Linked DNA regions of Homo sapiens: regions 1 and 2 are each linked to region 3. The links come from fine-mapping of genetic effects on gene expression. A gene starts in region 3. Each other region holds a variant in brackets. All regions are shown on one strand. Distances are from middle to middle. Region 1 overlaps LOC124904200. Region 2 overlaps ST6GALNAC3 (ST6 N-acetylgalactosaminide alpha-2,6-sialyltransferase 3). Region 3 holds the start of ST6GALNAC3 (ST6 N-acetylgalactosaminide alpha-2,6-sialyltransferase 3).

What was found.
Region 1: its variant is fine-mapped to the expression of ST6GALNAC3 in whole blood (TOPMed, PIP above 0.99).
Region 2: its variant is fine-mapped to the expression of ST6GALNAC3 in whole blood (TOPMed, PIP 0.93).

Annotation. Positions count from the first base shown.
Region 1 is chr1:76,049,528-76,057,808 of GRCh38, reverse strand. It overlaps LOC124904200, which reads right to left. Exons shown (of 5, transcript XR_007066173.1): 3 at 2,205-2,296; 4 at 1,596-1,700. Among named protein-coding and RNA genes, the nearest start is that of ST6GALNAC3, 21 kb to the left of the region's middle. RefSeq lists an enhancer at 4,558-5,058. The variant T/A (reference allele first, on the strand shown) is at 4,793.
Region 2 is chr1:76,098,244-76,106,243 of GRCh38, reverse strand. All of the region lies in intron 1 of ST6GALNAC3 (ST6 N-acetylgalactosaminide alpha-2,6-sialyltransferase 3), which reads right to left. Among named protein-coding and RNA genes, the nearest start is that of ST6GALNAC3, 27 kb to the right of the region's middle. The variant A/G (reference allele first, on the strand shown) is at 4,838.
Region 3 is chr1:76,070,368-76,078,641 of GRCh38, reverse strand. It overlaps ST6GALNAC3 (ST6 N-acetylgalactosaminide alpha-2,6-sialyltransferase 3), which reads right to left and starts at 3,896. Exons shown (of 5, transcript NM_152996.4): 1 at 3,758-3,896. The coding sequence starts at 3,775. RefSeq lists a silencer at 3,896-4,095.

The DNA.
Region 1 (8,281 bases), 21 kb after region 3:
GGAACCAACCCAAATGCCCATCAATGTTAGACTGGATAAAGAAAATGTGGCACATATACACCGTGGAATACTATGCAGCCATAAAAAACAATGAGTTCATGTCCTTTGCAGGGACACGGATGAAGCTGGAAGCCATCGTTCTCAGCAAACTAACACAGGAACAGAAAACCAAACACTGCATGTTCTCACTCATAAGTGGGAGTTGAACAACGAGAACACATGGACACAGGGAGGGGAACATCACACACTGGGGCCTGTCGCAGGGTGGGAAGCAAGGGGAGGGAGAGCATCAGGACAAATACATACATGCAGAACTTAAAACCTGGATGACGGGTTGATAGTTGCAGCAAACCACCATGGCACATGTATACCTATGTAACAAACCCGCACATTCTGCACATGTATCCCAGAACTTACAGTAAAATAAAATATATATATATATATATATATATATATTAAGGTGTAATACAAAATCCAATTTTCATGCTCTAAATCAAGGATCAGCAATCTTTTTTCTGTAAAAGGCCAGACAACAAATATTTTAAGCTTTGCTGGTCTCCCTTACGAAGAATCAACTCTGCCATTGTAGTGCAAAAGTAACCATAGACAGTATCTTAATGAATGAGCGTGACTGTGTTCCAATAAAACTTTATTTCTCCTAAACAGATAGTGGGCTGGATTTGGTCAGTAATTTGGACTGTAATTTGTCAACTTCTATTCTAAACCACTATGCTTTAAAAATCTGAGAAGGTAGAAATCATAAGACATTGACAGGTAAAAAATATTACTGGGCTTCAAAGGAGGGAGACATTATAGCTTGGGTTACCAAAAAAGGCTTTATAGTGGAGGAGGTGATTTAGTGGGGTTTGAAAGATAGGTTAGATCTATCTACATGTGAACACCAGAGCTTTGGGTATCTCATGCAAAGAGAATAATGAGAGTAAAATTATGGAGACAGGATATGGAGTGGGGTACATAGAGTAAGAAGAGATAGTTCAGGTTGACTGAGAAACAGATATGTAGACCAGTGAGATAAGAAAAGTGGGGATTTTGTTGGATGCGATGGCTCACACCTATAATTCCAACATTTTAGGAGGCCAAGGTGGGAGGATCACTGGAGGCCAAGAGTTCAAGACCAGATGGGCAACATAGTGAGATCCCATCTCTTATAAATAAATAAATAGATACATAAATAAGAAATGTGGGCCTTTCATTAGATAAAAATATCTGGAACTGAAAAACAAGAGTTTTATTTCATAGAAAATTGGAAACCACTACATGTTTGTGAGGAGAGGGGTGGCATAAGAGAGGGAATAGTTATATATGTTATGCTTCTTTATGATGATGAGAGACAGTTGTGCCAGAGGGGTCAAGAATTAACCTGGGCCATCATGAGTGAAGATGCATTTCTAGTCATTGCAGTAAACTAATCTGACTGGAAAGGGCCCCAGTGAAACACTTGAAAAGTTTCCCCCACTAGAGTAATGAAATGAGAAGACATGTTCCCAACTGCCTACACAATGAGTGGAAAAGGATCGACTGCAAGAATCGGAATCTCAAGGCTAGGTGGTGGATTCAAACTACTTGCTCATCACCTGTTAGTCAGGAATTCAGGCTGGGCTTCGCTGGTTGGGCTCCTTCTGCTCCACTCGGGGCTGGGCTCATTCACTCCCTTGCTTTCAGCTGGTGGCTCCAATGAGCTGAGTAAGATGGAGAGGGCCAAGAAATCTTCACTTTCATGTTTAATTCATTGATATGCCATTTCCCTCTATATGTAGACAGCATGAGCTTCTCCACCACATAGTGGTCTCCAGTTAGTTATGCTTCTAACACGATGACTGGCCTCCAAAAGGGAGCTCTCCAAGTAGTGAAAGCAAAAGTTGGGAGTCTCATAAGGCCAGTCTTGGAAGTGATGCAGTGTCATTTCTGCCACATTCTGTCAATCAAAGTCAGTCACAGGCAGCTCAGAATCAGGGGAAGGGATCATAAACTCCACCTCTTGATGGAGGAGTGGCAAGATCACATTACAAAAGAGCTATTGGGAGAGGGTCTATTGTTGTGGTCTTCTCCAGAAACACAATTTACCACAGAAGTTTAACATAAAAATTAATCTAAGGCCAATGAAACCTCCAGGGACCTGGCAGAGGCAAACCCCAAACCACTTCTGTAGTTCAGGCCTCATGGGGGTCCCATGGTAAACAAACCTTGTTGAAAATGTGCTTGTGATCAAAAATTACAAACGACATAAGGAAACAGGACACAGATACAGCAGAGAGCAGAACTGGCACACCATCACCTGGAATAATGGAAGAAAATGAAAGAGATTTAGAAATAAACATGATTAACATGTCCAAAGAGCTAAAGGTAGAAAATATTAAAAAACACATAGGCATGCTTGAAAAGGATGAAATTGAAATCATAGTGACAAAAAGTATACTCATTGAAATAGAAATCCCAACACAGGTGACAAAGAATTAATGAAATGTAAGATAGACCTAGGGAAATTATTTTAGCACAAGTGCAGCACAAATAAAAGAGATATTAAAAACATGAAATATCTAAGGGATATTAAGATACTAAAAGGTTAAAATAAGAGTCTAATTCATACATCTAATAGGAATTCCTAAAGGAAGGAATGGAGAGATTGGAGAACCAATATCCAAAGAGAGTGTCTGAAAGCTTTCCACAATTAAAGAAAGAAGTCATTATATTTAGTAATAAATCATAGCAAAATTTAAGCAAAATAAATAAAAATACAAATACACAACAAGACACATCTTACTGAAAATGCACAACATCCAAAACAAGAAGTAAACAAAGCTCCGGGGAGAAGAAAATAAGACACGGTAACAATGGAACTGACAGTCTTCTCAGCAATAATAGGTAGATAATAGAATAATGTATTTTAAATGTTGAGGGAAAATAGCTATCAATCTAGAAATCTTTGAGTATGCAACTGTTGTTAATAATTAAGGCTAAATAAACCCATGTTGTAAAAAAGACAGAAACCATCCGATCAGAATTTTGTTATTTAACTTTACTGCAACATGCTTTATATACAATAAAGTACAGCCATTTTAAGAACACTGTTTGATCGCACTCTTGTAACTACCACCACAATCAAGATACAGAACATTTCTGTCACCACGAAAGGTTTCCTTTATTCCTTCCCCAGTCAATTTCCCCACCCCACCCTTGGCCCCAAGTAACCACTGCTCTGCTTTCTGTCACTATAAATTAGATTTATTTTTTCAAGAGTCTTTTAAAAAATGCTTTTAGACTGCATGTAATCTTTGTGTCTGGCTTCCTTCACTCTGCTTAATGTTTTTTGAGATTCATCCATGTTATGTGTATCACTAGTTTATTCCATTGCACAGAAAAGAAAACTGATGCTTCAATATTAATTCCAGACAAAAGAAAACTTAATCAGAAAGTACTGTTAGGGCTAAAGAGGGGCTGTATATAAGAAAATTACACCAAGAGAGTAAAATAAGCATGAATGCACATGTTTCTGTCACTAAAACGACAAAGCATTTAAAGTAAATCTGATAAAATTACAAAGACAGTCCAAGTGCAGTGGCTCATGCCTATCATCCCAGCACTTTGGGAGGTCAAGGCAAGAGGATTGCTTGAGCCCTGGAGTTTGAGACCAGCCTGGGAAACATAGTGAGACCCTGTCTCTACAAGAAATTTTTTAAAAATTAGCCAGGCATGGTGGTGCATGCCTGAGTACCAGGTACTTGGGAGGCTGAGATGGGAGGATGCTTGAGCCCAGGAGGCTGAAGCTGCAGTGAGCTACGACAGCCACTACACTCCAGTCTGGGTGACAGAGTGAGATATTGTCTCAAAAAAATAAAAAAAGAAGATAGGAAATTTAAAATAAGAATGGAGGCTTCCCTGATAAAGTCATCAGTTAGTTGACTCTTACACTGTTATATGCTTAATCATGCTAGCAAATCAAAGCATAATCATACTGGCTCCACTTGAAACAATATTAGTGGAAAGGGTATTGATATGAAGGAGTTAACACTATTTGTCATTTTCTAGGCCGTTGGTAACCATGCTTTTGCGGAAGATTTAAAAACAGTGGGTTGCTTTCCCTTTACCATAAAATAAAGACCAAAATGACCAAAAAAAAAAAAAAAATAGACAGCATTAACTGAGCATTTGTCGGGCAATATGTTAAACACTGTACCTGCATTCTCTCTTCACTTCTTGCATCAAGTTTTTCCTCAGTTTCATGGAAGGAAAACTGAGGCTCACAAGGGGTGGCTACTGAAAAGCAACACCAGGACTTCAACCTGTGTCTAACTCTAGAATCAACTTCTAATCCTACTAGACCATACATATTATGTCAACCCAACAACAGCAGTTTACAAATTTCCACCATTAACTTCCCCTTCTGACAGCAGAACACATTCCTGACCTGAATCCCTACTAAGCCACTGGCCAGTTCATTCTTATTCAAACTGTGGAGCAAACACTCAGCTGGATTATTTCTCACGTAAAACATTCCATCTGCAGAGAAGCAAGACTGGCTTATGTTTTTAAAAACAGTCTGCCTGGGGCTGGCTGTGTGATGGAAGTGAGAGGCGGCGGGGTACCCTGGCCGTGGCTGACAATGAAATGCTGGAGAACAGAACTGGGGAATGAGTTGCAGACACAGCACATCAAAGCCACAGTGAGTGGCCTGGAAACAGGCAGCTCAGCGTCACCCAGCTCCTGCTGCTGCCAGAGGAAGGATGCTGCAACGGTCATCACTTAACCACTCTCTGACTGCCAACAACCACAA[T/A]AACTAACACCTTGCACTGAATTATCATGGACCCTTGTTTCCTGTGACCTCAATCTTACCTTACCCCCTAGATCATCTTCCAAAAACAAGGTATATATTTTTTAAAGGAAGACACACTGGAGTTCTCATATGGACTTTAGAAAGCTGTAAAAACTAGACCCTGAATGAATCTACATGTTTGTATGTTACCTCACCTAATCATAGGTTTATGAAATCAGACCTTTCCATAACGTGAATTATGTCTTACACAAAAGAATAGAAAAGAATAACTCATTGCTATTCTGCAGCCAGCTTGTAATTTTCTGCAGAAAGATTATGAGAAGATATAACATTGTAGGGACTTACATAAAACACAAACCTAAAAGATAAACATTACCTTAGCTTTTGCCAAACACTGTGTATATTGGTCAGCTAGTATGAGGCCTGGCATGTGGTTGGTTCTAAATACATGTTTTGTGATAACAATGAGTAATTATGACACTTTAGAAGGCTTGAAGCAAAACTCTCTGTTGAATTAAGTGAAATGAGTGCTATACTGTGTTTAGATGAGCAAAATAAAGGGACAAATGAGCAATTGTTAAATGAATTTAATCAACCTGGATCATAAACTACCTAGGTTCAAATTCCCATTCTTCTGTTGGACCTTGGGCATGTTAACTGTACTTGTCTGTGCCTTACTCTGCTCTGTAAAATGAGAATTATAAGGCTATCTGCTGGGGTTGTCGTGAGGATTACATTAAATGACACATGTAGGCATGTGTTGTGGTGCCGAGCATGCAGCGAGCACTTGGCAAATGTTGGCTCATGACTTTATTATTATTTCTCTAGGCCACTTTTTCAGTTGTTTTACCTTTATGAATAAAATGTAACCATAGCAACTTCAAATAAACTTTTTTTTTTTTTAATAAGAGACCTCTAAACACTTAAAACCCCAAAGCTGACTTTCTTCCCGTGGTTAATGTGATGGTTAGTGTGGCCCAGTGTTTCACCAAATATTAACTTTTATTCTTCCCTCTCCTCACCCAAGACACTTGTCCTTAATGAAAACAGAAAATTGCTTTCCTAATTAACATTTTCAGAAATATGGCCTGATTATGCACCATTTTTAGTCAAAATAAATAGATATGTCAGAAATGTTCTCATAGGCAGTGGGCTAAAAGCAGCTTTGATTTCAGTGTCAGAAGGACTAGACAGTAGGTTTTTGAGGGAAAGATTTGTTGGTCCACAATGGCTGTAGCTTAGGTGCTTGGCGCAAAGCCTGGCATATGCTAAGCACCCAATAAGAGAATATGTAAACTTCTAGTTGATTCCTCTCTGTCATAGCAAGTGGCTCTCTATGACTTCAACCTCCAAAGATCATGTGGTGTCATGAAAAGAACCTAAATCAAACACACCTGGCTTTAAATCTCCAAACTTTTTCTAGATCTATGGTCTTCAGCAAGATAATCTTTCTAAACTAAGCCACAGTTTTCCATCTGTAGATGGGACAACCTTATAGGATTTCAGTAAGAGTTAGTGATAACAATGGTAGCTTGATAGGGATAGCATTGAATCAGTAAGTTACTTTGGGCACTGACTTTCTTCAAAGAATTAGAAAAAACTACTTTAAACTTCATATGGAACCAAAAAAGAGCCTGCACAGCCAAGACAATCCTAACCAAAAAGAACAAAGCTGGAGGCATTATGCTACCTGACTTCAAACCATACTACAAGGCTATAGCAACCAAAACAGCTATATAGACCGATGGAACAGAATAGAGGCCTCAGAAATAACACCACACATCTACAACCATCTGATCTTTGACAAACCTGACAAAAACAAGCAATGGGTACAGGAGTCCCTATTTAATAAATAGTATTGGGAAAACTGGCTAGCCATATGCAGAAAACTGAAGCCGGACCCCTTCCTTATACCTTATACAAAAATTAACTCAAGATGGATTAAAGACTTAAACATAAGACCTAAAACCTAAAAACCCTAAATAAAACCTAAGCAATACCATTCAGGACATGCACAAAGACTTCAGGACTAAAACACCAAAAGCAATGGCAACAAAAGCCAAAATTCACAAATGGGATCTAATTAAACTAAAGAGCTCCTGCACAGCAAAAGAAACTATCATCAGAGTGAACAGGCAACCTACAGAATGGGAGAAAATTTTTGCAATCTATCCATCTGACAAAGGGATAATATACAGAATCTACAAATAATTTAAACAAGTTTACAAGAAAAAAAAAAACCAACAACCCCATCAAAATGTGGGCAAAGGATATGAACAGAAACTTCTCGAAAGAAGACATTTATTCAGGCAACAAACATATGAAAAAAAGATCATCATCACTGGTCATTAGAGAAATGCAAATCAAAACCACAATGAGATACCATCTCATGCCAGTTAGAATGGCGATCATTAAAAAGTCAGCAAACAACAGGTGCTGGAGAGGATGTGGAGAAATAGAAGCACTTTTACACTGTTGGTGGAAGTATAAATTAGTTCAACCATTGTAGAAGTATGACAATTCCTCAAGAATCTAGAACCAGAAATACCATTTGACCCAGCAATCCCATTACTGGGTATATAACCAAAGGATTATAAATCATGCTGCTATAAAGACACATGCACACATTATGTTTATTGCAGCACTGCTCACAATAGCAAAGACTTGGAACCAACCAAAATGCCCATCAATGATAGACTGGATTAAGAAAATGTGGCACATACACACCATGGAATACTATGCAGCCATTAAAAAGGATGAGTTCATGTCCTTTGGAGGGACATGGATGAAGCTGGAAACCATCATTCTCAGCAAACTAACACAGAAACAGAAAACCAAACACCGCATATTCTCACTTATAAGTGGGAGTTGAACAATGAGAACACATGGACACAGGGAGAGGAACATCACACACCAGGGTCTGTCGGTGGGTGGGGGCTTGCGGGGAGGGATAGAATTAGAAGAAATACCTAATGTAGATGATGGGTTGATGGGTGCAGCAAACCACCATGGCACGTGTATACCTATGTAATAAACCTGCACGTTCTGCACATGTATCCCGGAACTTAAAGTATAATTTAAAAAATTTTTTTTAAAAACCACACATACAACAAAAAAAAATAGTGATAACTAATGTAAATACTTCTTGGACATAATAGTGCACAATAAATGGTATCATTCTTAAATTAACTTCCTGAAGATTTTATCATCCACGGATTCATCTACATTTTAGTTGAGTCTATTTAAATCATGCTTCATCGTTCTCACATTTTTCTATCTCATGTGTTAATGCAGAATGGTGTAGGGTAATGAGCTTACATTCTGGAAACCCACAGATCTGGGTTCAGAGCCATCTCTGACACATAGGGAGAACAGGGAGAGAGTTCGCTCCAAGGGAGCAAAGACAGAAAAAAAAGACCCTGACCTATCATTTACTAACTCAGCGACCTTGAGCAACCAAGGATTTAACTTCCTAAGCCTTGATTTCTT
Region 2 (8,000 bases), 28 kb before region 3:
TAAATCAACTAATTAAAAGAAAAAATTTCCCATTGGATTTCATTATCATGACAATAATAACAACAACAAAAATATAAGATTTATTGACCACTCATTATGTTCAAGGCCCTATGCCAGGTGTTTTCATATACATATGAATTCTAAAAGACAAGCATTCTTGTTGTCATTTGACAGAGAAGAAAATAGACCCAGAGAGTTTAAGAAAAGTGCCTAATGTCACAGTGATGATAAATAGCAGAGCAAATACCTGCACACAGTTTGGTACGACTCCAAAGCTTATACTCTTTCCATGTTACCTGACAATTCTATTTTCTCCATCATGTGAAGAATTGTCTCTCATAAAAAAAGCTAATCGTTCCAGTTTAAAAAAAAGAGTAAGAAAATTATTTGAAGTGGTATTTGTACAATATTTTTTTAAATGTAATAGCCAGACGGTAATAGCACTAGCAATCCAGGATGTATTTTATAGGGCTATTAATATATGCCTCGAGTGGTCAAAGGCTTTGCCACTCACTTGAGGCAAATAGTAATGGCCAATAAAACTTGCCTTGTCATGTCTTAATACCACATTGTATCATCACACTTGTAATGAAATGCTCTTAAACTTCAGTGTTATCAGAAAGGAAGAAAAAGTGGTAATTAAATGAGCTAGCAAAATGAGGAGGAAGTGTGGAAAAGTGGAGAGAGCCCTGAGTTGAGACCTTGGCCTAACTCTCCCATGCACCTCTGTGACCTAATCTCAGGATGTCAGCATCTCCATCTGTAATCTGTGGTTCATTACGACAAGCCAAGACTTCCTCCAGCTCCCACAGTCTGTGGTTCTTCAGTGAATTCACATTCATTTAACAATAGCTCACTGAAATCATCTAGGGGCACACCTGTGCTAGAAGCTCAGGACAGCAGTAACCAAGGCAGAAGTCTTTGTCTCTGATGCTGGCCATTAGAGGTAAGTGGATGGCTGTGAGTTGAGATATTGCCTTGCTTTAAAACTTTCTCTTCTTATAGGTTGTGAATATTTCCATGCAAATTGTGACAAAATCTTGATAAGAGTTGCATTTGAGTGATGGGGGAATATTTGGACTATTCCCTCCACTTCTGTAATTTTTGGAATTTTTAATCATAAAAATGTAAGGTGGATAGATGAGAAAAGCTTCAGAGAGACTACTGCTTCTGATAATGACTCACTAGATATGCCAGATAAAACTTTTGATATGATTTGGCTGTTTCCCCACCAAATCTCATCTTGAATTCCCACGTGTTGTGGGAGGGACCCAGTGGGAGGTAACTGAATCATGGAGGTAGGTCTTTCCCGTGTTGTTTTCATGATAGTGAATAAGTCTCACAAGATCTGATGGTTTTAAAAAGGGGACTTTGCCTGCCCAAGCTCTCTTCTCTTGTCTGCCGCAGGTGAGGCATGCCTTTCACCTTCCACCACGATTGTAAGGCCTCCCCAGCCCTGTGGAACTGTAAGTCCAATAAACCTTTTTCTTTTGTAAATTGCCCAGTCTCAGGTATGTCTTTATCAGTAGTGTGAAAACAGACTAATACACCTTCCCATTGAAGATAAGTAAAAGAGAGAAAAAGCATTTATTAAATGCTTTAAAACACCTCAAATCTAAAAAAAAAAAAAAAAGCGTCAGGCCAGGATCAAGGGAAGGAAGAAGTCTGGACAAAAGAAGCTGGCATTCTGGGCCTATTTCTCCCCTAACGACATATTGAGGAGCCAAGGAAATAAAGATTTGTGTTTAAGTCCTGCTAAGGATGGGGGAACTGACCAGGTGTATCATTTGTTTTGGACTGGGCTCCTCAAAGAGCTGTGTCCTAGCAGGAAGGGAGAATAGAGAACTAAGAGGCCCTTGCAGAGGTCTATGGATCATCTTCAAGCCATCTCAATATCTGAAACTAAAATCAGATGCTTCCAGAATTCTAATGCCCCAAGTGCTTGCAGAAGCAAATGTAAATCCCTTCTGGGGTTGAGAAACCTCAATCTTGACCTCAAATTATATCTGTAAAAAATTGTACGAATATACTGTCTCACACACAATTAAAAATAACCAAGCACATAAGGAGATAAGAAGACATAAACAAAACCAGCAGAAATAACAGAAATAGAAACCCACCCACAAGCCTCCAGATACTAGAATTATCTGAAACAGACTTTTTGTAAAAAGTCTTCCTATTTATAGAAAGAGAAAATTATAAAGTTGAGAATTTCAACGTACAATGGTATAGCAGGCTAAAAGGTGGCCCCAAAAAAGATATGTCCACATTTTAATCTCTGAGACTTGTGAATATTACCTTATGTAGCAAAGGAGCAAATAATACATTATATGGAAAAAGATGTGACTGAATTAAGGGTGCTGAGAGGAGGACTTACCTTAAATTATCAAGATGAACCCTGAATGCAATCACATGTATTCTTATAAGAGATTGGCAGAAGAAATTTTAAGACAGACACAGAGAGGAGAAGGCCATGTGAAATGGAGGGACAGAGAGATAGCTACAAGCAAAGGAAGGCCAACAGCCACTAGAAACTAAAAGAGGCAAGGGGTGGATTCTTCCCTAGAGCCTTTGGAGGGAGTGTGGCTGCTGATACCTTGACCTCCAGCCTCCTGAACAGTGAGAGAATACATTTCTGTTGTCTAGGCTACCCAGTCTCTAGTAATTTGCTACGCCATCCTATGGAACTCATAAAAATGAGAAACTCAGAAACAGAGAGAGTCGAATGAAAATTTTAGGCCTAAAAATACATTAACTAAAATTAATAACTTAATAAAGGAAGAACAGACACAGCAGAAGCAGGAATTAGAAGCCAGAAGAAAATAACTAGAATAAAGTATAGAAAGACAAAAGGATGGAAAATACAGGATAAGACACTACAGGATACAGTGAGGAGGTATAACACATATGTAACTATAGCCCATGGAAATGGAAAAGAAGAGACTGAATGGGGAAAAGCAATATTTGACAAGATGAATGATGCCTGAGAACTTTCCAAAACTGAAGAAAGATATCAGGCCTCAGAAGGAGCCAAGACAAAGAATCCTAGAAACCCCAAGCAGGAAATGTAAAAAGAAAACTTCACCCAGGCCAATTACAATAAAACTGCTAAAACCACAAAGAAAAAAAAAAAAAAACTAAAAATCAGCATAAGGGTGAAAAAGAAACAAAAATTGGATTTTTATCTAACTTATCAACAGAAATAAAGAAAGCCAGAAGTAAATAAAATATCTTTTAAGTATTGAAAGAACATAACAGATAGCCTAGAATTTTATGCCCAGAGGAAATATCCCTAAGAGTGATAGTAAAATAAAGCACTTCAAACAAAAAACAAAAGAATTTGTTACCAACAGACCTACAATAAAGGAAATAGTGAATGATGTTCTTCAGGCAAAAAGAGAGTGCTCCCAGATGAAAGATAAATAATACAAGAAAATAAAATGAAGAACAAAGAAAAGAATAAATATATGATTAATCAAAATGAATTATGACTGAATAAAGCAATAATAATAATAATGTCTTGGGCATCTGAAAGGTATAGAAGTAAAATACATAACAATGACACAGAAGTCAAGAGAGTGATAAATGCCATTAAAGTGGTCTAAGACCTGAGTCAAGATGCATACTATAATCTCTAGTGTAAGCACCAAAATAATAATAAAAGAATATACAACTTCCAAGGTAATAGACAAATAAAAAGTGGAATGGTTAAAAGCAACAACAACAAATCCTCAATTCAACAGAAGGGAGAAAAAGAGGAGAAACTGGAACAAGGAACAAGCAGGACTAAAAGAAAGATAGCAAATTAATAAAATAATAAATTTCAACCCACCCGTGTATTATTACATTAAAAGTAGGAAAACTCAATGCTGCAATTAAAAGACAAATTCTGTCCAACTCAACCATATGCTGTATACAAGAGACACATCTAAAAATAATGCTATAGAAATGCAGGAGCTAAAAGTATTCAAATAGGCACACACACACACACACACACACACACACACAAACACACCAGGCAAATACTAACTGAAAGAAAGCTGGTGTGGTTTTATTAATATCAGATAAGATAGACTGTAAGGCAGAAAGTCTTACTAGGTATATGGAAGATCCTTTGTAATTGAGAAAAAGACAAGTCTACAGTCATATTATGGAATTTTAACATATCTCTCTCAGAAACATATAAAACAAAAAAAGACAAAAGAAATCAGTGAGAATGCAGAAAATCTGAAGAACATAAACAGCAAAATTGGCCAAATAAACATATAGAACATTGCACTCAACAAATAGAGGATATACTTTATTTTCAAGCACATAGCAAACACGTATAAAAATATGCCAGATGTTATGAAATCAAACACATCTCAACACATTTCAAGCACTGAAATCATTCAAAGCGTGTTCTTTCCTCACAATGCAATGAAGCCAAAAATCAATAATGAAAAGATGGCTAGAAAATCCCTGGTAGAAATTAGAAACTGCTCTTAACTGAATGATAATAAAATGATTTCATCTAAAACAGCAAAAACAGTACTTAAGGGGAACCCTATTGTGTAAATACATTACGACAAAATTTGAGAATCTACTAACCACTTCAAGAAATCATTTTTTAAAATCAGTCAATTTAAACAAAAGAAAGTAGAAGAAAGGAAATGGATAAAGAGCAGACGTGACTGAAGTGAAAACAAGCATACAATATAAAAGATCAACATGAGGAAGTGTTGAAAACACTCTTACCACACAAATCTTCATATAGGTGTTTATTCTGTGTTTACGAATACAGAAACTGTACTTATAAGTGCCAAAACTTGGAGCAACCAAGCTGGCCTTCAGTAGG[A/G]GAATGGATAAGCAAATTCTGGTACACCTAGAAAATGAAATATTGTTCAGTGCTAAAAACAAATGAGCTATCAAGCTGTGAAAAGACATGGAGGAAACTTAAATGCATATTAGTAAGTGAAAGAAGCCAATGTGAAAAGGCTACATACTCTATGATTCCAACTATATGACCTTCCGGAAAAGGCAAAACTATAGAGACAGAAAGAAAGGTCAGTGGTTTCCAGGGGTTACGGTAGAAGGGAGGGATGGATAGGCAGGCACAGAGTGTTTTTAGGGCAGTACCACTATTCTGCGTGACACAATGGTGGATATATTTGTCCAAAACTCATAGGATGTACAACACCAAGAGTGAATCCTAGTATAAACTATGGACTTTGGGTGATAATGATGTGTCAATTTAGGATCATCAATTGTAACAAATATAGCACCCTGATGGGGGATCTTGGTCACAGGGAAGGCTGTGCACGGATGGGGCAAGGGTTATATGGGTTATCTCTGTACCTTCTGCTCAATTTTGTTGTGAATCTAAAACTGGCATTAAAAAAATGTCCATTAAAAAATTTTAATGCATAATTTTAAAACTTCCCACAAAGGAAAAAAAAAAAAACAGATTCTGATGACTTCCCCAGATAATTCTACCAGAACTTTAAAGAAAAAACAATACTGATCATACTCAAATACCTCCAAACAATAAGAGAATACATTTCCTAACTCACTTTAAGCATAACCTCGATAACCAAAACCTGACATGGACTTTATGAGAAAGGAAAATTTCAGGTCTAATTCATTAATGAACATAGAGGCAAAAAGCTTAAACAAATTATTAGCAAACTAAATATAACATCATATAAAAATGTTAATCCATCTTGACCCAATTGGGTTGCTTCCAGAAATGCGTGGTTGTTCAACATTTTACAAATATTCATTACATTAGCAGAATTAAGCAGAAAATACATATAATAATTTTAATAGATGCAAGATTAGCTTTGATAAAATTCAACATCCATTAATGAATAAAACTTCTTAGCAAAGGAGGAATAGAAGGGAAATTCCTTTAAAATATATCTATAAAAACACTACTGCAAACCTAACACAGTGATAAAATATTGACAACTTTCTCTTTGATATCAACATCGTATTAATTTTTGGAGTCAGTACAATCAGGTAAAAAAAGATATAAAAGATAACACAACTAGAAAAGAAGAAGCAAAAGTGCCATTTTTAGCAAATGATATGATTGTGGATGTAGAAATCCAAAGAATCTACAGATAAAATTAATAAGTCAATATAGCAAGATTGCTGGATATAATTTTCAGTAAATAAAAACTAACTACATGTTTATAAACCAGCTATAAACAAAATTAAATTTAATTTTTTAATTTCCATTGTATCATAAATACTTAACAATACCTCAAAATAAGTGGATATTTCTTTGAAAAATATGAAAAATTTCTACATAAAAGCAAAAGAATATTAATGTGAGAATTGAAATGCAATAGTACTTGGAGCTATATAACATATTCCTAGGTTGGAAGACTCAATTTGTAAAAATGTTAGTCCTTCCTAAACGAATCTATGGAGTTAATGGAGTCTTTAAAAGAAAACTTAATAAAGTATTATTTATTTACAATAAAATATATACATTTTTAGGATGTGGTTTAGTGATCTCTGTAATCATCACCCCAGTTGATACCCACATGCCCCTGTAAAGCTCTTCCCACTAATCTGCCCACTTCATCCCTGACTTCAGTCAACCACTGATTGATTTATATCACTGTAGAGTTGGGGCTTTTATAAACGTCATATAGATAGAATCACGTATTACGTACTCTTTCATGTCTGGCTTCTTTTGCTTAATGTAATGTTTTGGAGATTCATCTACATTGTTGCATGTATCGACAGTGCATTCCTTCTCATTGCTTAGTAGTTTTACATTTTATAAACATACTGGTTGTTTCCAGTTTGGAGCAATTACGAATAAAGGGGCTATGAATATATGCATGTACCACTCTTTTGTGGACATACGTTTTCATTTCACTTGGATAAATACCTAGAAGTGGAATTTTTAAGGATTCAATGCAGTCTTAAATAAAAACTCAGTAAATAAGATCCACAATTTTTGTGGAATTTTATGAGCTAATTCTAAAACTCAAAGGAAGTATAAAGGGCCAGGATCACCTTAAAGAGAAACAGCAAGGTGGGAGGTTTGGCTCTATCAGAAATAAAGACTTATCATAAAACTTATCATAAAAAACTACAGTGTGACATTGGTATTAAAATGAACAAATAGATCAATGGATCACTAGAATTTAGCAACATATCCAGAAAAAGACTCAAACATATGAACATTTCGGTGTCTCTGCCAAGCAGTAGCGAAAGCACAGTCTTTTCAATGAAAGATGCCAGGAAAATTGGATACCATATTGGGGTAAAAAATGATGCCCTATTTTACATCATACAGAAAAATAAAATCGAAATAGATTTTAAATCTAAATTTGAAAGGCAAAATAATGTAGTTTCTAGACATTAATATGCTAAAATATTTTCAAGAAATCAAACTAGTGAAAGACTTCTTAAGGAGGGATTTTAACAATTATTAATTGTAAAATAAAAAATTAAGAAAATAGGCTGTAGTATAATTGTTTTGTTCATAAAAGACACCAGTAAAGGAATGAAAAGACAAGCTAAAATGTGGAAGAAGATATTTGCAACACATATGATTGGAAAATATATATTAATGCATAAAATATATATAAAACACTCCTACCCCCCTAAAAGGTAAAAGAGAACCCATTTTTTTAAATGGGGAAAAGACTAATACAGGCAGTTCACACAAGAAGATATTCAAATAGCCAATAAATATCTAAAAGGTGTTCAACCTCATTCTTAATCAAGGAAATGCAAATTAAAACCACAAAGAGATACCACTGCCTACCTAACAGAATGGCAAAAGTTTAAACCAATTGTTGTCCAGAAGCAAAAGGAACTTCTGTGATACTTCTGGTGGAAGAGTAATTTGATACACTAATTTTGGAAAACAGGTTGGTAATATCTACCATCAGGAAAAATTGTGAAAGATTTAGAATAGGGAAGAAAAAAAAGCATTGTGATCGTGCAGTCTAATGCACCCTACTGTGTTACTATGCCTTTCTATGTCTTTCTGC
Region 3 (8,274 bases):
AGATTATCTCATTTAACCTTTAGAATAACCCATTGAGGAATGCATGATTCCCATTTTGGAAACTGAGGTAGTGAAATCAAGAAACTTGTTATGGCTCTATAATCAATAAGGAGTGGAGCCATAATTAAAAGTCACATATTTCTGGCTTTAAAGTCCAGGCAATGTGAAGTCTGAATTCCTAAATTAAATGATTATGAAGTGATCATCGTTCTGTTACGAGAACTAGCGCTATGCATTGGCAGAATGGGCCCTCAGCATGCACAGCACCTTGAGGGGATAGTTCCATATCCCCTAAAAGACCAAAATTAGCTGCCACAGCATGGGGGTCTCTTCTTAGTGAGGGTCACTATTGTGTAGGCAATAATGATACTTTAATCAATATCTCTCTATCTCAGTTTTCTCATTTGTAAAAATGGATAGTAAAATCTACTGCAAAATTCATTGAGAAGATTAAAGTCTTAGCCCACAGAACAAAGTTGGCACTGCCTCAAAACTTATCTTTCTAAAACACGAGCTCCGTCATAGTAAATCCTATTTAGTCTTCAAAACACAACTCCAATATCATCAGTGGGAAGCCTGTCTGAACTACCCAATGACAGGGGTAATTGCTCTCTCCTTCCATGCTTCTACTATGCCCTCCATGGACCTATGTAGTTTTATTCTTCACATTGTAACCTAAGCACTCATTTACTTTTCTATCATCCTTACTAAACCATAAGCCATTTGAGAATGGGGTCAATGGTTTATGCATCTTGTGATGTAAAAGGAATCAGAACAGGCTACCCCAAAATATATCACTTTGGCATATTGATTATTTTGAGCTAAAGGCAATTGAGAAAAAGCAGATACAGGAAGGGCTTTCTGACCTCCCCATTTCTACCTAAAAGCAAGGCATAAAATTTCCCATGAGAAATGTCCCTTCCCTGTGCCAGGAAGAGGAGAACATTCTTATGATCAAAGATGGAGAGTCAACACCAAAATAAATCTCTAGTAAAAACACTCACCTATTTTCCATTAGTTTTCCCCATACATTTCCCACTTTCTCACAATCGACTGCCCCAGCCCAAACCCCCTTTTTCCTTTGTCTTGTCACATTTCCACAATTTATCCTTCTCTATTAAAATGCTTTATAAACTCTCAGGCCTCTCCCCTTCTTCGGGTCTTTATTTCTTATATAGGAAGCCCTCTGTGGTACACATAAAAACATTAACATCAAATAAAATGTGTATGTTTTTCCTCTGTTAATATGCCTTTTGTCAGTTTAGCTATCAGGACCAGGCACAGAAACTAAGAGGGCAGAGGAAAATCTTTCCTTTTCTACATATGCCAACACCAAGTCCAGGGTCAGCAAATGGCAGAAAATATTTCATTAAAAAAAAAAAAGTCCATAGTTTTATCCTCATAAAAACCCTGTAACGCAATGGTTATAATTCTATGAACACTTCAACAAGGGAAAACTGAGGCTCCAGGTTGCAGCAGCTGTCTAAAATCATATGCAAGAAGCCAGGCTTGCACTGAACTCAGGTCTCTGGACTGAAACCTGTATTCTGCACTGCTCCATGTGTAGCTTTTCAAAGACAACAAAGAAAAAAGATCCAGCCCAGACTGTCTAGACCATGACCAGAGAAGGGGATTGCTCAAAGGTGCTCAAAGGTGGTTGGAACTGAATGGTATTAGGCCATCTTAAAAGTCATCACCTGGGAAAGTACTGGAACAGCAGTAAAGTATATGGAAGGTTGACATATCTGGGTCTAAATCCAGGATCACTCTGTCATTAACCCTGTGTGGCCTTGGGCAAATCTCTTAAACTAGGGAGCGTCAACTTTCTCATCTGTAAAATGGGGTTTAAAACAATGATACTTATCTTTCAGGGTTTTATGTAAAGATTAAAGAATAAAAAACATTTTGTATTTTATAAAAAATAATAGTTATAAGAAACAGACTGAGGATATAGTAAGGATCAACCAAACTGCACTTATTATTATATGTTAGAGGAAAAAAATGGCACATATTAAATGCCTGTGCCACAAAGTATTTTTCATACCCTATCTTATTTCATTCCCACAGCAACCTTGTGAAGCAGGTGCCACTACTTTGATCTTATATTGAAGAAACTAAGGCCCAGAGACATTTAAGTAACTTGTCCAACATCACAGAGGTAGCAGTGGGCAGAGCCAGCATCCAGACATATCTTTCTGAGTCTAAAGCCCACATTAGTTTCAGTGGAGGGAAGATAAGGTGGACAGATATGTCCCAAATGTCTGAAAGCAGTGTGAAGTGCTAGAAGAGAAAGATTGGACCAGATTCATGTGTAGTTTGGGATGTGCATTAAAGATGTTTACCACATGTATAGGACAAGGCAGGGGAGAAACCAAAACAGAAAAAGATGGCCAGCAATAAATATCATGCTCCTCAATGTCCCTTTCAGCAAATAACACAATGAATAGTAAAGATGACTCATATTCATATTTCAGTCCTTGTGCTAAGAGCCTCCCGGTCAAATACCCCATACTGTAATACTGATGTATTATTTCCTCATGTCCTGGAAAATGTTCTGAAACAAAAAGAGGAAGTTCAGAAAGCTCACAGGAAACTTCTGATCTCCTTTACGCAAAGAAGGGGAAACAACTTCTACGAGGTTAGTCTCTTATTTTCATCATTGACACCAGGCACGTTAGAAGACGATTCAGGTAACCAGAACACAGTAGATGACTTAATATCATCTTATAGAGAAATAAATGCTACTTCACAATAACACAACAACAACGAATTGTTTCCTGGTATTTTCCATCGTCACACAGTTCCCCCAGGCTTGGACAACTAGGTCTCTGCATTCTCCAGTCAAGGCCCAGGAAACTTTCATGCTGTTCATGTTTTTGATTCATGCATCCAGGTTATGTTCTTGTAGAAAGGTAGTGCAAAAAAAAAAACGAGGGCAGGGGAGGCCTCTACCAGTGGGATGGAAAGTTCTTTTTAAGTGAGGCCCTCACACCAAGTTCTCCCACCTGAGGCCACAAGTCTGTGAACCCAGAAAGATGCTCAGGTGAGGCTAAGAATCCGGTCTTGGAGAAAGAAAACTCAACAAAGAAGGGATGGCTGAGCGCACTCTGGCAGAGCATAAAATCATTTTGTCTATTCAAATTTATGAGCATAAAGAGAGTGAGAGGTTCTCTACTAACATATACATCCTCGTGTGAACTTTTCCAAAGTAGAGCTAAGGGCAAACAGAGCTAGCAGATCTCATAGAAAACTCATTCCTAAGGGACTACCTGTAAACTCAGAAGTTTCTGTCTTCACATGATCAAATGCACAGTAGAGCCCACCTCCGCTCACTCTTCCCTCCATTTAAAGCGCTATGCCCCTCACCACCAGCAACTCACGCCTAGCCACTCCACCCCTCCCCGTGGCCCCTGAAAGGCCTCAGGCTCCACAGAGCCGCGGGACCCGCGGGAACACCCCTCCTCTCCCTACCATCCCCATTATTCGGCACACAGCCCTGCTCTCCCCTGGAGCCAACAGTCTGCAGCTCCTTCAATGCAGGCGCGAGCAGGAGGCAGGAATGGTGGGAAAAGAAGCTGTGCCAGCTGCATGTTTCAGAATCTCCCTCCATATGCATTTGCCAAAGGAACAAAAAGAAAATCAATGCCAGGAAAAGACAACTGAGATGAGGATGCGGTGGGACCGCGGCTGACTCCGTGCCTCTGAGCAGCAAGGGGCTGGCCAACCACGCGTCCGAGCCACAGATCCAAGTCGTTACCTTCAGGATGCAGGCCATGGCGCTCCGCCGGCCCTCCTGCCACCGAGCAGCGGGCGCGCCTGGGTCAGGGGCAGTCCTGGGGGCAGGCTGGAGGCTGGTACCACGGCAGGACCTCTCCAGCCCACATTCCCGCAGATCCAAATAAGGGGACCGCGGTGTAAGCTGCGCCGCCACAGACCCCGCCCCCCGAGCCGCGGCCCCGCCCCCGTCCCCATCCACTGGCCCGCGGCCCGCGCGGCCCCGCCCCCGGGTCACGTGCCGTCCTGGGCGCCGGCGCCGGCGGCTCCTCAGTGCCTGCTACTTCTTTCTCTTGTTTTCTTCTGTGAACCTTTCGCGGCTCGACGTGCGCAGAGTGCGCTCTGCAGCAGGCGGGGACCTGGGTCCCGCGGGGGGCAGAGTACGGCCTTTTCTTCTCGGTTCCGTCTCCTCTCACACATCAGAGAACTCCTTTTTACAGACGTTTCACACTTTGTCAAAGTTGAGTGGGTTTGGCATCGCCCTTCTGGAGACTTTGGGCACATCAAAGGGCTTTTCAAAAGTAGCAACGAAGTTCTCCCTGGGCTGTTCAAGGATTGAGCCTTCACTCTGTGATGGGCTTATCTAAAATTAATAATTTACCGCTAATAAGTGAGCACAAATATCAACGAAAGAAAGACGTCATGAACCTTACACTCTGTATGGTATATTTTGTGTGTGTGTACATATTTTACATATACATGTATGTGTGTATAATATATAAATTATTGCCTTTTCCTGGTACAAGCTTGTTTATGAAATTGTATATGCATGATATACAGTATACAGATACAGGATGCACACATGTGTATATTGTATTATATATGTACATGTTGATTGTACAGTATATGTTTATAAACTGTGTATGTGTACATGATAGGACTTTGCTCTTCCCTGCTCCAAGCAAGAGCCGGCTAAGAGAAGCAGTTATTTCTACAAGGAGAGTAAACGCATTGCAGAAGGGAGAGAGCATTCCGTGTACACACACAGATTTTTACCACTTGGTCTGTCAGAAAAATTTTAAAAGCGGCCCCCAAATATCTACCCAAAAGAAGTTTCACTTGCTAGAAGCTCCGTCTAGTTTGCCTCCATGGAATCAGGAAAAGCACTGTGGGCTGGTGGTGTCATGAGATTGGCTCACAAACCACAAGGCAGAATCCAGGCTTTCAAGGAATTTGGTATTTTCTTGATGAGAACATGCAGAATTCTTAGAGAGCAGGAGTAACCACAGGAAGGAGGTTGCAGAAGCTGAGCCTGTGGATGAACTGCCTGTCCCATGGGAAGCTCCTGTCTTCAGTCTCCCTGGAATACCACACCCTGCTCTTCGACTTCTTCCTCCCGCCCCTCCCTCCTCTGCCTTACAGATCCGGTGTGTTTTTAGTAAGAATTCTTTGTTTGGGACTATATACTTTAAACCGCTGCTTTAGCTCATGGTCCTTCATAGGCCAGGAAAATTCAGTATTTCATTCATTTACTCATCCCTTGATTGATTCCACAAACTTTTTTATTGAGCCACTACTAAATGGAAGAATAAACTTTATTCACCTTCCACTAAGTGGAGGAAAAATCTTTATTGAAGACCTTTCAGGGATAGGAGAATGACTTTCAGAATATCTAACATCAAGGTGGGCTCACAGTTAAGTGAGAAAGACAAGAATAAGAGATACATGATACTATAACATGGAAAGGGCCTTAGCCAAATTGGAAGCAAAGATCTCAGGAAGGAGAAAGAGAAACACCTGACCGTCCCCCAGCCCGACACCCGTAAAGGGTCTGTGCTGAGGAATATTAGTAAAAAAGGAAGGCCTCTTGCGGTTAAGAGGAAGGCCTCCGTCTCCTGCATGTCCCTGGCAGAACAGCAGAGCAAAGGGGTGAGGGTGGGCAGAGCACATCGTTCTCTCTAGAAAGTCTGTACATCTGGAAAGAGAAACAGCAGGCCCTAGTGAACAGCCCTGCTAAGTACTTCCCTGCTGGGTGTCCTTGATCAAGTTTCTTAACCTCTCTTTAATCCTTACCTTATCTAATATTATCTATCCTCAAGAGAATTAAATGAGATAATAATGTTTGCAAATTGCATTTACCTCAATTTCTGGCACTATGAGCACTTTTTATATGATAGCTCTTTATGTAAAGAAAAAAATCTTCCGCTAAAGACAGACTTGTGGGAGAAGATGAATAGGATAATTGCCATCAGCCTTGGGTGTCTCAGGAGGATGAACACCAACGGAGCAAACTTTTAACATGTTATGACTTGGGTATGCCGTGATGAGGCCTTTACTAATTCCCTCAATCTACTTGGATATGGCTTTCTCAATTACATTTCTATCCACCCATGTCCATACTTCCCAAGGTGTTATTTTTTTTATTAACATCCAAAAGTTATGTCAAACAGCTAGAAATAAAGGCACATTTATAACAATCTAAAAACAAACTCAAGTTCTAGAATAAATCTGGACTGGAAGATTTACAAAACAGTATTAACAATCACTGTTTTAGATGGACCACTCGATGTCTGGGGGTGGGGGGGAAGCTTTTGGATGGAAATAAAAACAGGTTTTGAACCTACCAGGGAATGGAGATAGCCAGATTTGTTGGGGCTGGGAGGATAGGAGTGTGTTGCCAGGATTTTTTTGTTTTAAAACTGGCCAAACTACAGGAACAGCTTAGTCAAATCCATAGGTGTAGCATAATTTTCCAGCTCTAACATTATGTGACTTAAAGCCAAGAGTTTCTATTTCCAAAAATAATAATAACAAAATGGAGCATCCTGCAATTAAAGAAAGTATCTCATTTGATCCTCACAACATCCACATGGATGTTATCATCCCCAGCTGGTAACTAGGGGAACAGGGGTTTGAATCTAGGGACTTGTGGGTTTGCCATCTTAACTGCTACATTCAGCTGTCCAGTATGTTAGAAGCCCAATTTCTGTCATTTGTCACTCTTCACATTTCATCTGTTGTCTTAGTGTAGCCATAGGAAAACTTAGGGTAAGTATGAATCCTCCCCGGGATACAGACTAGGATACAAAACCTAGGGTAAATATGTGAGTATGCAGAGGATAGGTACACTCTATCAATCTGAGTGTACCGGATACATACACTCACCCTGTATTTTTCAACCCTCAGCCCCTGGGTCATACCTTAACAAAGACCCAGCACTTCTCATCAGTCTCTCACCAACCAAGCTGTTACCACCTTCTGTGCATGAGAATGACTTCCAATCAAAGATTCTCACTGCTGCATCTCACCTACTACGTGGGGGTGCCACAGAGCAGCCTGCCAGCCTTTGCTTCCTTTCATGGAGAGATCCTTGGACCTGGCCCTTTCACTACATCAGCCTCCCTAGGGCTCTTCTTGGCTTCCTGGTCCACCTTCCCTCTCCTCAGAGGCCTTTCACTAGTGAGATTTCACCATGCCTCAAGGTGGAGACTTCATGAGTTATGACAAGTCATGGGTGAATATTTGCTATTTAAATTCAGTTTTGCCTCATTGTAAACAGCCCCATTACCCAATAATTCTCAGAGTTATAACATACAGTTAGTTCCCTGATAGAAATAGAATTAACATGCTGACTCTCATAACTTTTCCAATTTCAGCCTGCACACATATTAATTTAATATATTTATATGCAACACAGAGTCATTTATTAAGATTTTAATTGGATCTCAATTTTTCCAATCTAAAGATTTTAAATGAATTCCAGATATCATAAAACTCTTTGTCATCCACTACATAAATTATGCCTCCATAGGAGACTGTGACTGGAAGATCCATTAGAAAATGTTATGGGAAAGTCATTTTTTTTAACATTCTGAGCCAGGATAGGAAATGATCTTCTTTTTCTAGAAATCATTGCACTGTTATAATTGTGACCTAGGAAATTTTTCATATCCTAAAGCAGGCATCTAGCTGTCCAGGTCCACACGTGTGTCTGTAGCTATGTTTAACTGCATCTTGGCTATGCCCTTTTAGGTAGCTGTTTATGAGAATACACTGACATATGGGGTTAAGCTTCATTTCTCTCCTTTTCGATAGTAGGACATTCCAAAATGTCATCCAGTTTGCATTCCCAAGACTTGAGCTTACTGCTATTTCAAACCTTTGCACAGTTCTTCTAATCCAGAATTCGTCAACATCCCTGACTATACTGATACTTATCTGGGATGAACTCCAAGACAAGTTACGCATGATTTAAAATTGCATTTTTAAAATATTATATATTTTCCCATTCAGTAACATTCTCCCTTAACTTCATCTCAGCTCTACCTTTCCCTATTGGAAGTTTCCATTTTTTTTCAAATGAACCAATTAAGAAAAGCTGTTTTTAATTTTTAAAAAATCCAAAACTAATGTTGTTTGCCTACTTTTCATTACCTAGAAGAATGTAGTTTTTAGCCTGATTTGTTTTTCTTAAAGAGTTTTCCTCTAAGTTTTTTTTTAAAAAAAAAAACATAATCAATTAAAAGTAAATATGGACTGGGCACTGTGTCTCACGTCTAT